2 linked regions of the Homo sapiens genome follow. The protein of the gene in region 1 interacts with the protein of each later gene in a pairwise test. Each region holds a gene or a part of one and is shown in the gene's direction. Other genes may lie near its edges.

Evidence for each region.
Region 2: the proteins of CERCAM (region 1) and SFT2D1 interact in binary tests that used the Homo sapiens proteins (3 or more experiments, as listed by UniProt).

The regions. Positions count from the first base shown.
Region 1 is NC_000009.12:128,430,857-128,437,847, forward strand, and holds the end of CERCAM (inactive glycosyltransferase 25 family member 3 isoform a precursor), read left to right. Parts: intron 1-314; coding exon 315-447; intron 448-3,245; coding exon 3,246-3,373; intron 3,374-3,553; coding exon 3,554-3,757; intron 3,758-4,796; coding exon 4,797-5,049; intron 5,050-5,992; 3' UTR 5,993-6,491; downstream 6,492-6,991. UniProt on the Homo sapiens protein: Probable cell adhesion protein involved in leukocyte transmigration across the blood-brain barrier. Does not express any beta-galactosyltransferase activity in vitro.
Region 2 is NC_000006.12:166,332,538-166,339,572, reverse strand, and holds part of SFT2D1 (vesicle transport protein SFT2A), read left to right. Parts: intron 1-7,035. UniProt on the Homo sapiens protein: May be involved in fusion of retrograde transport vesicles derived from an endocytic compartment with the Golgi complex.

The DNA.
Region 1 (6,991 bases):
AAAAAAAAAAAAACATTAGCTGGGCACCTGTAATCTCAGCTACTTGTGAGGCTGAGGCAGGAAAATCACTTGAACCTGGGAGGTAGAGGTTTCAGTGAGCTGAGATGGTGCCACTGCACTCCAGCCTGGGCAACAGGGGCTCCAGTTCCCCAGGTCCAGTCCCTTGACAGCTTCAGGTCACACAAAGGAGTTACAAGGCAGAAACCTTCTTCAAACCCGACTCCAGTGTGACTGTCCCCAACATGCACAGGCCTGGCCCCTCTGGAGGGGTCTCTGGCAGGCACCCCTCACCCCGCCACACCTGTGTCCCTCAGGATGCTCAACAGCAGTGCCATCAGGAACCTCGGCGTAGACCTGCTCCCGGGCTACCAGGACCCTTACTCGGGCCGCACTCTGACCAAGGGCGAGGTGGGCTGCTTCCTCAGCCATTACTCCATCTGGGAAGAGGTGAGGGTGCCTGCTTCCTCCATCCACAGCCTTCGGGGAGAACGGGGCCAGTTTGTTCTATTCACTGCTCTGTGAACGAGTGAGTGAATGAAGACATTCATCAAAACCTGGCCAGCAGCTTTCAATCTCCTCTGTGTTCAACACCCCAGTGGGCACCACTAAGCGGTGCTTGTTTTCATTCTGCAGTCTCTCTTGAGCATCTACTATGTGCTAGGAGATATTCTGCTCTGAGAACACAGAGGAGGACAGGAACAATGCATGTCTGCTCCTTCCTGCAATAAAGGGATCCCCCTGGGGCTCAGGGACCAGAGCGGGATTATGGAAATCAAAACCAAGCTTGCAGTGGAGGGGAGAGGTATGGGCCACTTTGAGAGGTGCCTCGTGTGGGAGGGGGTCAGAATGGACCTCACCATTGAGGGGCCGGGAGAAGAGGCTTCTAGGCAGAAGAGAACAGTGGGTGCCAAGGCCCTGAGGCAGGAAGGTGTTTAGGAGCAGAAAGAAGGAAGCCTGGGGCTTAGCATGTGCTCAGTACTTGGCCAAGAAGCCTCGGCCCAGGGGCTGGGAGTGTGAGCGCAGGAAAGAGGTTGCTGGACACGGCAGGAGAGAATGGGAACTGGGCCCTCCAAGGGCAGCCCTTCCAGGAGATGGGACATGGATTCCTTGTTTGTGTTCTCTGCTATAGCCAAATATATGTGCACGTGTATGTGAGCATTATGGGTTTTTGTTTTGTTTTGTTTTCTGAGATGGAGTATTGCTCTGTCACCCAGACTGGAGTGCAGTGGCACAATCTTGGCTCATTGCAACCTCTGCCTCCTGGGTTGAAGCGGTTCTCCTGTCTCAGCCTCCCAAGTATCTGGGATTACAGGCATGTGCCACCACACCTGGCTAATTTTTCTATTTTTAGTAGACAGGGGGTTTCGCCATATTGGTCAGGCTGGTCTCGAACTTCCAACCTCAGGTGATCTGCCCACCTCGGCCTCCCAAAGTGCTGGAATTACAGGCTTGAGTCACCATGCCCAGCCTATGTTGGCTTTTTTACCGTCCCTGAACAAATTGGAGGATGACATGGTTCACTACTTTTTTTTTTTTTTTTTTTTTTGAGACAGGGTATTGCTCTGGCACCCAGGCGGGAGTGCAGTGGCGTGATCTTGGCTCACTGCAGCCTGGACCTCCCGGGCTCAAGCAATTATCCCACCTCAGCACCCCCGAGGAGCTGAAACTACAGGCGCGCACCACCACACCCAGCTAAATTTTGTATTTTTTGTAGAGACAGGGTTTCGCCATGTTGGCCAGGCTGATCTCAAACTCCTGAGCTCAAGTGATTCCACCCACCTCAGCCTCCAAAAGTGCTGGAATTACAGGCATGAGCCACCGCTCCTGGCTTCACTACTTTCTGAGCTGATTTCCTTTTCACAGAAGTTATCAAAAGTAGTTTTCCAAAAGTTATTCTAAAGTAACTTTTCCAAAAGTTATCAAAAGTACTTTTTCTTTTGGATATTCGGGGCTGGGGTCTTCCCACCCCCCACCCAGCCCAGCTTCCTTTAGAAAATAGCAGGAGGCCAGGCCAGGTGCGGTGGCTCACGCCTGTAATCCCAGCTGAGGCAGACAGATCACGAGGTCAGGAGTTCAAGACCAGCCTGGCCAACGTGGTGAAACCCCGTCTCTACTAAAAATACAAAAATTAGCCCGGCGTTGGCCGGGCGCCGTGGCTCACGCCTGTAATCCCAGCACTTTGGGAGGCCGAGGCGGGTGGATCACGAGGTCAGGAGATCGAGACCATCCTGGCTAACACGGTGAAACCCTGTCTCTACTAAAAATACAAAAAAATTAGCCAGGCGTGGTGGCGGCGCCTGTAGTCCCAGCTACTCGGGAGGCTGAGGCAGGAGAATGGCGTGAACCCAGGAGGCGGAGCATGCAGTGAGCCGAGATTGTGCCACTGCACTCCAGCCCGGGCGACAGAGCAAAACTCCGTCTCAAAAAAAAAAAAAAAAAAAAAAATTAGCCCGGTGTGGTGGTGGGCACCTGTAATCCCAGCTACTTGGGAGGCTGAGGCAGGAGAATCACTTGAACCCGGGAGGCAGAGGTTGCAGTGAGCCAAGACCATCTTTTGATGGGAACTGCAAGCCACTTCCCCGCCCCCAGAGAGTTGGGCTTCTGGGCCCAGCCACCATCTGTCATGCTTGCACTCAGGCAGCTGGAGGAGTGGGAGGGGAGATGGCTCCTGGTCTTGGCCATGGCTGCTTTGGCCTCCACCGTTCCTGCTCCTCTTCCATGCAGCCCCCTGACTTGGGGGGCCATTTCACTCCAGTCTGGGCAACAAGAGTGAAACTTCGTCTCAAAAAAAAAGGAAAATTGCAGGAGGCCAAAGTGACAAGCTGGGCCCTGGTGTTCAGCAGATGCGGGTTCATATCCCAGCTCTGCCACTTCCTGGCTGTGTGTCCTTGGACAGGCAGTTTCCCATCCCTGCATGTCCACCTCCTTCCTGCGATTGAGGATCATCATCTCCTGCCTCCTGAGGGCCCCTGCAGATACGCAGTGGCACAGCCCTGGGGCACAGTAGCACTCAGGGAATGTAGCAAGGGCCACGGTTACCATCATGATTCTATCTGGAGATCCTCAAATGCCAGAGCGAGGTTGGGATTTCCGGTCCCAGGCAGTGGGGCCCCCAGCAGGCTTTGGGGCAACTGCATGATGTGGCCAGGCCAACTGAGGCCAGGCAGAGGCTGTGAGCTTCAGCGTGGAGGGAGGGGGGTTGTTTAACTCCGAAGAGCCATCTCCCACCCCATTGTATGCCACAGGTGGTTGCCAGGGGCCTGGCCCGGGTCCTGGTGTTTGAGGATGACGTGCGCTTTGAGAGCAACTTCAGGGGGCGGCTGGAGCGGCTGATGGAGGATGTGGAGGCAGAGAAACTGTCTTGGGACCTGATGTAGGCAGCCTGCACCCTCAGGGACAAGGGGGCAGGGTGGGCCTCCGGAGTCTGCCTTTTCCTGCTTGGGACCCTGGCCGGCCCATCCCCTGAGAGCCTGGCCCTGTAGGAGCGGGTGTGGGAGGGTCCCATGACACCCAGGACCTAAGTGACTCCTGGGCCCCTTGGTGTCACTTACAGCTACCTCGGACGGAAGCAGGTGAACCCTGAGAAGGAGACGGCCGTGGAGGGGCTGCCGGGCCTGGTGGTGGCTGGGTACTCCTACTGGACGCTGGCCTATGCCCTGCGTCTGGCGGGTGCCCGCAAGCTGCTGGCCTCACAGCCTCTGCGCCGCATGCTGCCCGTGGACGAGTTCCTGCCCATCATGTTCGACCAGCACCCCAAGTGAGGCTCTGATGGGGGCCGGGCATGGCAGGGCAGAGGCGTCCCCTCCAGGAACTCACCTCAGTCAGCAGGAAGTCCCCTCACCTGGCAGATGGGGAGACTGGGACTGGCAAGGCCAAGCCACTTGGCCCAGGTCACCAAGGAGTGGCTCAGCCTAGCCTTAGAGTCAGTCCATTCTCGGTGTGTACTTTGCACAGTGCATGCAGGCTTTTTTTTGAAATGGAGTCTTGCTCTGTTGCCCAGGCTAGAATGCAGTGGCATGATTTTGACTCACTGCACCTTCTGCCTCCCAGGTTCAAGCAATTCTGCTGCCTCAGCCTCCTGAGTAGCTGGGATTACAGGGAAGTGCCACCACACCCTGCTAATTTTTATTTATTTATTTATTTATTTATTTATTTTTGAGATGGAGTTTTGCACTGTCACCCAGTGCGGTGCAGTGGCGCAATCTTGGCTCACTGCAACCTCCGCCTCCCAGGTTCAACTGATTTTCCTGCCTCAGCCTCCTGAGTAGCTGGGATTACAGGTGCCTGCCACCACACCAAGCTAACTTTTTTGTATTTTTAGTAGAGACAGGGTTTCTCCATGTTGGCCAGGCTGGTGTCGAACTCCTTGACCTCAAGTGATCTGCCTGCCTGGGCCTCCCAAAGTGCCGGGATTACAGGCATGAGCCACTGTACCCAGCCTCAATTTTTGTGTTTTTAGTAGAGATGGGGTTTTGCCATGTTGGTCAGGCTAGTCTTGAACTCCCGACTTCAGGTGATCCGCCCGTCTCGGCTTCCCAAAGTGCTGGGATTATAGGCATGAGCCACTGCGCTCGGCTGCATGCAGTTTTTAATCAAATGACTTCCTTGTTCTCAGCCTCTGTTTCCTCATCTGGAAAATGGAGGTAGTAGAAGTCCCACTGCTCAGGGCCGCTGTGAGGACTAGATGGCGGGGAGTGAGGTGCTTTGGGCAGGCAAGGTGCCTGGCTCCGGGCAGGCATGTGTCCGGGGAGTAGGGGCCCGCCTCAATCCCCCTGAGCTATCCTCTCACCTTACAGCGAGCAGTACAAGGCACACTTCTGGCCACGGGACCTGGTGGCCTTCTCCGCCCAGCCCCTGCTCGCTGCCCCTACCCACTATGCCGGGGACGCCGAGTGGCTCAGTGACACGGAGACATCCTCTCCATGGGATGATGACAGCGGCCGCCTCATCAGCTGGAGCGGCTCCCAAAAGACCCTGCGCAGCCCCCGCCTGGACCTGACTGGCAGCAGCGGGCACAGCCTCCAACCCCAGCCCCGAGATGAGCTCTAGGTGAGGCCAGGGCGGGAAGAGGCCCCAGCCCCGTAGACCTTGGCTTGCTCTCCCCTTTGATGGCATAACTGTGTCTGGGGCTGTTTTCCCCTTCTCAGCCTTCTCTCTCCCTCTCCATCTCTAGCTTTGCCTTTATGTTTGTTGTTGTTGTTGTTTGTTTGTTTTTTTTAGACGGAGTCTCGCTCTGTCGCCCAGGCTGGAGTGCAGTGGCGTGATTTTGGCTCACTGCAACCTCTGCCTCTCGGGCTCAAGAGATTCTCCTGCCTCAGCCTCCCCAGTAACTGGGATTACAGGCACCCACCACAAGGCCTGGCTAATTTTTCTATTTTTATTTTTATTTATTTATTTATTTTGAGATGGAGTCTTGCTCTTTTGCCCAGGCTGGAGTGCAGTGGCATGATCTCAGCTCACTGCAACCTCTGCCTCCCGCGTCCCGGATTCAAGCGATTCTCCTGTCTCAGCCTCCCGAGTAGTTGGGACTACAGGCGCCCACCACCACGTCCGGCTAAATTTTGTATTTTTAGTAGAGACAGGGTTTCACCATGTTGGCCAGGCTGGTCTTGAACTCCTGACCTGAGGTGATCTGCCCGCCTCAGCTTCCCAATGTGCTGGGATTACAGGCGTGAGCCACCGCGCCTGGCCTTTTGTATTTTTAGTAGAGACAGGGTGTCATCATGTTGGCCAGGCTGGTTTTCAACTCCTGACCTCAAATGATCCAGCCGTCTCGGTCTCCCAAAGTGCTGGGGATTACAGGCGTGAGCCACTGTGCCTGGCCTCTGTGTCTGTCTATAATTGTACCTTCAGCTGTCTCCGCATCCCTCTCTAGCTTTTTCCCTCTCTGTCTGTCTCTGCCCCTGTTTTCCTATATCTGTCAGTGTCTGTCTGTCTCTGATTCTGTCTGACTCTAATTCTCTTTCTCTTCCTGCTCCTCCTGTCCCACCAGGTCCAGGTGATGACTGCAAAGCAGTGTCCAGGAGCAGGCCACTACTGCCCAGAGAGCAGAGGAGGAGGTTGTTGGCAGGGACTGCAGATCCTGTCAGACCTGGCCACCACCTTGGGCATGGCCACTCTGCCCTCTGGACCTGTCTTTCATCGGGAGAAACCACTCAGAGATGGATCCCATTCCCTAAAGGTCTCACAGCAAAGGAGCAGGACTCCCAGGCCCCTGTACCCTGCCTGGCCTGATTCAGGGCCTTGTGGCCCCCAGCTTCTGTTTCAAGCTGGGCAGACCCCAGGATCCCTTCCCTCCCTAAGGACTCAGCTGAGGGGCCCCTCTGCCCCCTTCTACCTCCACCTCAGCACCCTCCCCCAGCTTGATGTTTGGGTCTCCCCAGCACCCTCCTCCCTGGCCGGTGCAAAGTACAGGGAGGTAAAGCAGGACCCTTGCAGACATGTTGCCCAGCACACAGTAGGCCCTCAATAAAAGCCATTTGCACTTTAAATATATATATGTATGTATATATATGTATATATATATATATATATATATGTATGTATGTGTATGTGTATATATATATATATATATATATATATATATGTATGTATGTATGTATGTATATATATATTTTTTGACACAGGGTCTCCCTCTGTTGCCCAGGCTGAAGTGCAATGGCGCAAACCCAGCTCACTGCAGCCTCAACCTCCTGGGCTCAGGCAATCTTCCTGCTTCAGCCTCCCATGTAGCTGGACCACAGGCACATGCCACCATGCCTGGCCACATTTTTTTTTGTAGAGACTGGGTTTTGCATGTTGCCCAGGCTGGTCTCAAACTCCTGGGCTCAAACAATCTATCCACCTCGGCCTCCCACAGTGCTGGGATGAGAGGCGTGAGCCACTGCACCCTGCCACTTTATATATATACATATATATACACGTATATACGTATATATACACGTATATATACATATATACGTGTATATACACGTATATACACATACACGTA
Region 2 (7,035 bases), on another chromosome or scaffold:
GATTGAAGTCAGGGGAGAATAGAAAGAAGATGGAGATGGTATGGCCATCTCAGTGATTTTTCCTGTGGAGCAAAGAAGTGGGTGGTAGTTGAAGGATGCAGTGGGGTCGGGGAACATGTCATTTTCCCAAGGAAAATACTGGATGTTTCTGTGCATTGGGAATGGTCCAGGAAAGGGGAAAATTATGGTGCAGGCAAGAGGGAATTGTTGCTAGGGGGCTATTGAGGAGTGACTTGGAAAGCAGGTTTCTCTAGGGAGGAGGAAGGGGCAGGAAGTGGCAGTGAGGAGGGCAGACACCTAGCTCACTGCCTGTCCAAGTGGTACAGGATTCACAGGGGAGAGCCCTGGTCCTGGAGACTAAATTTCAAACCTAGCCGGAAGGTGAGAGGATCATCAGAGAAGAGGGTGAGGACATAGGGAGGTTTGCTGTTGGTTTTTGGAGATGGGTAGGAGATGAGATGGGATTAAAGGCGCACAGACCTGAATGGGGTGAGGGATGACCTGAGAGTGTTGCACGTCTTGTGCAGCAAGACGTAACCAGGATGGCGGGCACATTGGAATTGGGTCTTGACAGGGATGGTTCTAGGCCAGTTGAGGAGTTGGGCGAGGCAGTGAAGGTCATAGGGGAGCATCCTGACATCCAGGCTGCATCATCCTCCTATGCAGGCGCTTTGAGCCCCGGGGAGAGGCACGGTAGCCAGAGTTCTGGGACCTCTCCTTCGAGATGCCTGGGAAGAAGTCAAGGAGGGAGAGATATTGAGCCAGATCTTAAGAGAGTTGATCATATTCCTCCCCTGATCACATCCTTCATTGACTTCCTGCAGCACTTGAGTAAAATCCAGATCCCTCCCTTGGCCTCTCAGCCCTGCACTGCTTGTCGGCCCGCCTCCCCACCCTCTCCCCAGTGCTTGCCTTGCCCTGCCCTCTTTCTCCTCCTCAGTTGGAGCCATTTTCTTCTGCCTGGGAGACCTGGCAGTTGCATTTCTTTTTTCAGGAATGCCCCTTCCTGGCTCTTTTCAGAGTTGGATTGGTCACTTCCTGATGTCTTCACTTGGTCACCTCTTTAGAGAGGCTCTTCCTGACCCAGTTACTCTGCCCCTATTTATGTCCTTAGTAGAACCTGCCTCATTAGTTTATTGCCCATTTTCCCCCATCTGAATGTAAGTACGCTAGGTGCTGTCTTATTCCTTTCTGTGTATGTAGAACCTACCAAGTACCTGGTGTCTAATAGCTGTTCATAACTACTTGTTGAACAAACAGATGAGTGAGTTGTTTGGATTTGGGTAACTACCAAGGAGAGCTGAGGGCATTGGCATAAGGTAATTGTTGGGAGTTAGATGACAAGAACATAATGCCGGAACATTCTACAGAGTTCTCTTGTGGGAGTCCTACTAACCCCTGCTGACAATTTGCGAGATGTCTTAGTCCATTCAGCCTGCTGTAATAAAATACCTTAGACTTTGTGATTTATAAACAACAGAAATTTATTTCTTACGGGTTTTGAGGCCGGAAGTCAGAGATCAAGGTGCACTCATGGGTTCTTGGTGAGGCCTCCCCCTTCCTGGTGTCACACTGTTGCCTCTGGTTATATCTTGACATGGCAGAGAGCAGAGAGCTTTAGTCTCTTTCTCGTCTTATTAGGGCGTGGATCCCATTCATGAGGACTCCATCCCCATGACCTGATCATCTCCTGAAGGGCCATCTTCCAGTACCATCACCATGGGGTCGAGGATTTCAGCAAACACTCAGACCATAGCACACAGGTTGAGACAAGTCATTTGCTTGTTGACTGAGTTATTTCATATTTACAAATGGCATTAATTTATCATGTTTCACTTCAAAGATCACCGCGTGGAAGATGGTAATAAGAGAAAAATGCCTAATAAACAATTTAAGCTCTCTCTGCCTTTCCCACTTAGAAGATTGTAAGTATACCTACCTTATCTATTTCCCTCACTGTTCCCATGGTAGGTGTGGGTGAGGTGGTTAGGGGGAGTGTAGAGAAACACAAGGAGGAAGCTGTCTTTCCAGGTAGAAGGAGCTAAGGCGGCAGAGGAGACCCCAAGCAGGAGCAGCTGGCGAGGCGGGAGGACAGTCAGGAGAGCCGGTGGGACATGGGAGTTGAAGAGAACATTGTAAGCAGGAGGGAGTGCCAAAGTGTCCTGTGCTGTTGAGTTGGAAAGGATACTGATGCTTCAAAAATGTTCCTTGGAATTAAGGACACGGAAGTGACTTGTGTCTGCAGGGTTTCAGCCAGGGGAGGGCTGAAGCTAGAATGGTCAAGGTGAGCTTCCCAACCACTGTGCCAGGCGTGTGCCAGCTGGGGGTCCCGTCTACTCCTACAGCCTCAGATAAGGATTCCTGGGAAATAAGGCACTGGGCTAGGAAGGGAACTACATGAAAAAGTGTGGTGGGCCGAAGGGCCTGGGACCTTGACTGCACCTCCCCAGGGGCTACACTGCCTGGGCTGTGCTCCAAGTCTGGTGTGCAGAGGGAGCTTTCCCCGGGAGGCCTGCCTGCTAGAGCCTGTGTAATTGCCTGTGGCCAGCCCCAAAATCACTCACAGTGCTGTGGTCTGAATGTCTGTGTCCCCCCCAGAATTCCTATGTTGAAACTTAATCCCCAATGTGATGGTATGAGGAGGAGGTGCCTTTGGGATGTGATTAGGAATGGGTTTCATGCCCTATTAAAAAAGAGGCCCCAGGCCACATGCAGTGGCTCATGCCTATAATCCCAGCACTTTGGAAGCCTGAGGCAGGAGGATTGCTTGGGCCCAGGAGTTCAAGACCAGTCTGGGCAACATGGCGAGACCCCGCTTCTACAAAAAATTAAAAAATTAGTTGAGCGTGATGGTGTGTGCCTGTGGTCCCAGCTACATGGGAGGCTGCGGTGGGAGGATTGCTTGAGCCTGGGAAGTTGAGGAAAAGAAGGATCCATTGCCCTTTCCATCGTGTGAGGACTCAGAAGGTGTCATCTGTGAACCAGAGATGCCTCACCAGACGCCGAATCTGCTGGCGCCTTGATCATGGACTTCCAGTCTCTAGAACTGAGAGAAATAAGTGTCTGTTGTTTATAAGCTACCCAGTCTACAGTGTTTTTTTAAGAGAATTAAATAGTTTATTAGCTACATACAATTATGGATGATACACAAGCTTCATTCCCATCTATAATGTTATCTGGTACCATTATTCAGTTTAGATATATTGCATGGGATGTGCCAACAATCATTTTTATAACTAATAATTCTGTGACTTTGCTTGGGTGATCCCCTTTGGTGGTGAACTTCAGGTCACAACAGTAACTGTCAGTTCAGCTACACCGAGCTCACTGAAGACAGTGGCTTCTCCACCCGAGCAGAGTGTAAATAAGTTCCAAGTAGAACCTGGCATCACCCTGAAGGAATTCTGACTTCACACTCTTGGGGGAGTTTACCAAGATGGCTTCCGAGGAGACTAACTTTACACAGCACGTTTTTTAAAAGGACACATTTATTCAGTCTCATGATCAGACTATTACATTTAGCAATCAACAGCATGAGTGCAAAAGAAAAAAATTACATTAAAACCCTTTGTTGGAATGCTTGGTACTTTCCACAGAACAGAAACGAAAATAACCTGTTAATAAAATTAGTCACAAATACAGTCCTGGAGTTTTTTGCTCATACACGTGAGTATTGTCTAAAACATATCTTCTTTGTAGCAGCTGGGCTCTGCCACCACTGTGCTTGGCTGACTGAGTTCACAAATCTCTTGTAACCTGTAGCTTCCCTATCGCTTCTCTGGCTCTCCTTTCCGGCTAAACTTTGTTTCCTGGCAGTGATTAAAATCTTCTGCCAGTGCCATGGCTACTGCTGCTACTAGAACCACCATAGCCACCTTGGTTTTGTGAACCCATTTATGCCTGGTATTCCATTATTGGAACGCTAAGCATGTGGGAGTTATTTATGTTCTCCTGTTCAAGGTCATCGCCAAGGTCTGATTTTTCAAATTCAAAAAGTGCAACCTCAGGCATAAATGGGTTAAAATCTTCTGCCAGTGCCATGGCTACTGTTGCTACTGGAACCACCGTAGCCACCTTGGTTTTGTAAAGTAAAGTAAAATTTGGCAAAGTATTGTTCTCCACCACCATAAGGGCCAGAGCTTCTGCCTCCAAAGTTTCCTCCCTTTATGGGTCCAAAATTTGAAGGCTGATTGTTGTAATTGCCAAAATCATTGGAGCTTCTGCCACCTCCAGAATTGATTCCATCATTACCAAATCCATTACAGCCATCCCTGCTGCCACTGTATCCACCGCCACCGCTGTGGACAGCTGCCACCAAAGCCATCATGACCACTGAAATTTCCTCCATGACCGAAGTTGTCATTCCCACCAAAACCACCTCCACAACCACCACCAAAGTTTCCAGAAGCACTTCGACCTCTTTGGCTGGATAAAGCACTAGCCATCTCTTGCTTTCACAGGACTTCCCTAACTTCACAGTTTTGGCCATTCACAGTATGGTATTTCTGAGTGACAGTCTTGTCCACAGCGTCGTGGTTGTCAGAGGCACGAAGGCATAGCCCCTTTTCTTGGCACTACCTCTGTCAGTCATGATTTCAGTCACTTCAGTTTTTCCATACTGTTCAAGATCTCTTAGGCGATGTTCTTCAATGTCTTCTTTAATGCCGCCAGCAAATATCTTTTTCACAGTTGGGCACCTCGTCTTTGAGAATCTTCTCGAGACAGCCCTTTGGTTCCACAACTCTTCATCCACCTTGTGTGGCTTTGCATTCATGGCGCATCCACCTCCTTCACAGCGGCATACAGGACAAACCCAAAGCCCCAGAGTGCTTGGTGCTTGGATCTCATGACTACACAGTCCACGAGCGTTCCCCATCGCTCAGATTGGCTTCTCAGGTTCTCATCAGTTGTTTCAAAGCTCAGCCCTCCAGTGCCGAGATTCCACAGTCGGCCCTCCAGTGAGGAGCTTCCACAGCTGTTTAGGCTCTTTGGGAGACTCTGACTTACACTGGAGTGCAGTGGTGTGATCTCGGCTCACTGCAACCTCTGACTCCCGGGCTCAGGTGATCCTCCCACCTCGGCCTCCCAAGTAGCTGGCACTACATGTGTGTGCCCCCATACCTGGCTAATATTTGTATTTTTTGTAGAGATGGAGGACTCGCCATGTTGCCCAGGCAGGTCTTGAACTGGGTTCAAGCAATCCGCCTGCCTCAGCTTCCCAAAGTGCCAGGATTACAGGCGTGAGCCACAGTGCCTGGCCTATGGTATTTTTGGTGTAGCAGCCAGCACATAGATTTTTAACCAGGAGCTGGATCCCTTACCCAGCACTTAGAACAGGCACATAGCAGCACTCAGTATTTATTGAGCCAGTTAGTGGATGGATGGATGGATGGATGAATGGATGTATGAGTGTACAGAGGCTGGAAGGTGAAGTGAAGTAAGCTTTCTGTTTAAGATGGAAGGGACTTCATGTTTAAAAGTTGATGGATGCATTTTCAGAGAGTGAGAACATGTTCACTAGAGGAAAAAGCCCAATAGCATCAATTCCCTGAGCAGGTAAGGGGTTGGCTGTAAAGCAGGGTGGACAGGTGGATCTCAGCTCTGTGGGAACCAGGAAAGGACAAGAGCATGGGTGTTCTTAGTTGGTGTGTTTGGTGGTTTGGTGGTTTGGTGGCAGCAGGAAGGTAAGGGAGTTCACACTGATGGCTTTGGGTTTCTGTGTGTGAAGTAGGGGAAGTTGTCTGCTAAGAATGGAAGTGTGGGGCAGGAAGTGGAGGTTTGAAGTGGTTTAGAGTAAAATGGACGTTGAGATAAAGCAAGAAGCCTTAGATTGCCAGGCAGCAATGTGCAGGCCATGGGGGGCTGATGAGGACTGGCTCAGGACCCCCCTGCCCTGTGCCTGACTCCACCCAGCAGTGCTCAGCTCAGCACCTCCTGGAGCAGGAGGAGGGAAAGCTGCACTCCGGTGGGATTTTACCAGGTGGAGGCAGCGGAAAGGGAATTTGAATGTCCTGTTGAAGCCGCTGAAAAAACGGAGAAGGGCCGGATGAGGAGTTCAGGAGGCCAAGGAGTCAGCACGGTGGGGCCGAGGAACCAGCCTGCTGCCAGAAGAAACGGGTCGGAGAGCGGCAGCCGGAATTTTGGCGATGGTGTAATTTCGAGCAGGAAGACTGCCCTGGGCTGGGTCACTGAGTGGAGTGGAGGGGAAAGGCCAGTGGAGATCAGGGGATGCTGCACAGAAAGGCCAGGCTGCCCACGCACACGTGGAACCCGTGCCGCATGCTGCAAGGATCTGGATAGGCCCCGCGATCAAGAGTCCTGAATGAGAAGGAGAAAGTGTGGACCCCAGCAGCGGGTGTGGGGAGCGGGCGGTTCTGCCTGGAATGGGCCTGAGGGTCTGCGGATGTCTGTTTCTTTTTCTCACTTGTCTGCACAACTTTGACTTTTTATACCCACTGCTATTTTGAAAAAGGAGTGGGAGGAATACTGGATTCAGTGTCATCATTAGTGGAAAGCCACAAGTGTTTCCTATGTTTAGATGGCAGAAGCCCAGGGGCAAGGCTCAGGTCCTTCCAGCTGTGCTGTCTCCTGGCGATCCGTGGATTAGAGCTGTTCCTCAGCTTCTCCGTCACTTAAAGGGGTGGGTTTCGGCTGTGCTGTGGGAGCCACTCATTCAGCCTTCATGTTGTTGCTGCTAGGACTACATTTTCCTCTATTATGTTTCTCACCTGCTTTTGTAAAAAATTAATGAATGAAGTTCTAGTTGCAAGCAGTGCTGTGCTTACTGTGGCGGGAATAGGGGAGCAGCCCCTCCTCAAGGGCCTGTATTCTCTTGGCTTCCTCTTCCTCTGGTAGCAGATAAGTAAAATGATGGATGGTGGTTTTGGGAGAGGAAGAGGTGGCAATTTTATTTCTTTTCTAAGACTAAGAGATTAACAAAGTTGCTGGTTTTGGTGGGATTGCTCCTGATTGGTGGTAAAAGAAAGCAGCACATAAATGCTTATGATAAGCAGGCTGGGTGCAGTGGCTCGTGGC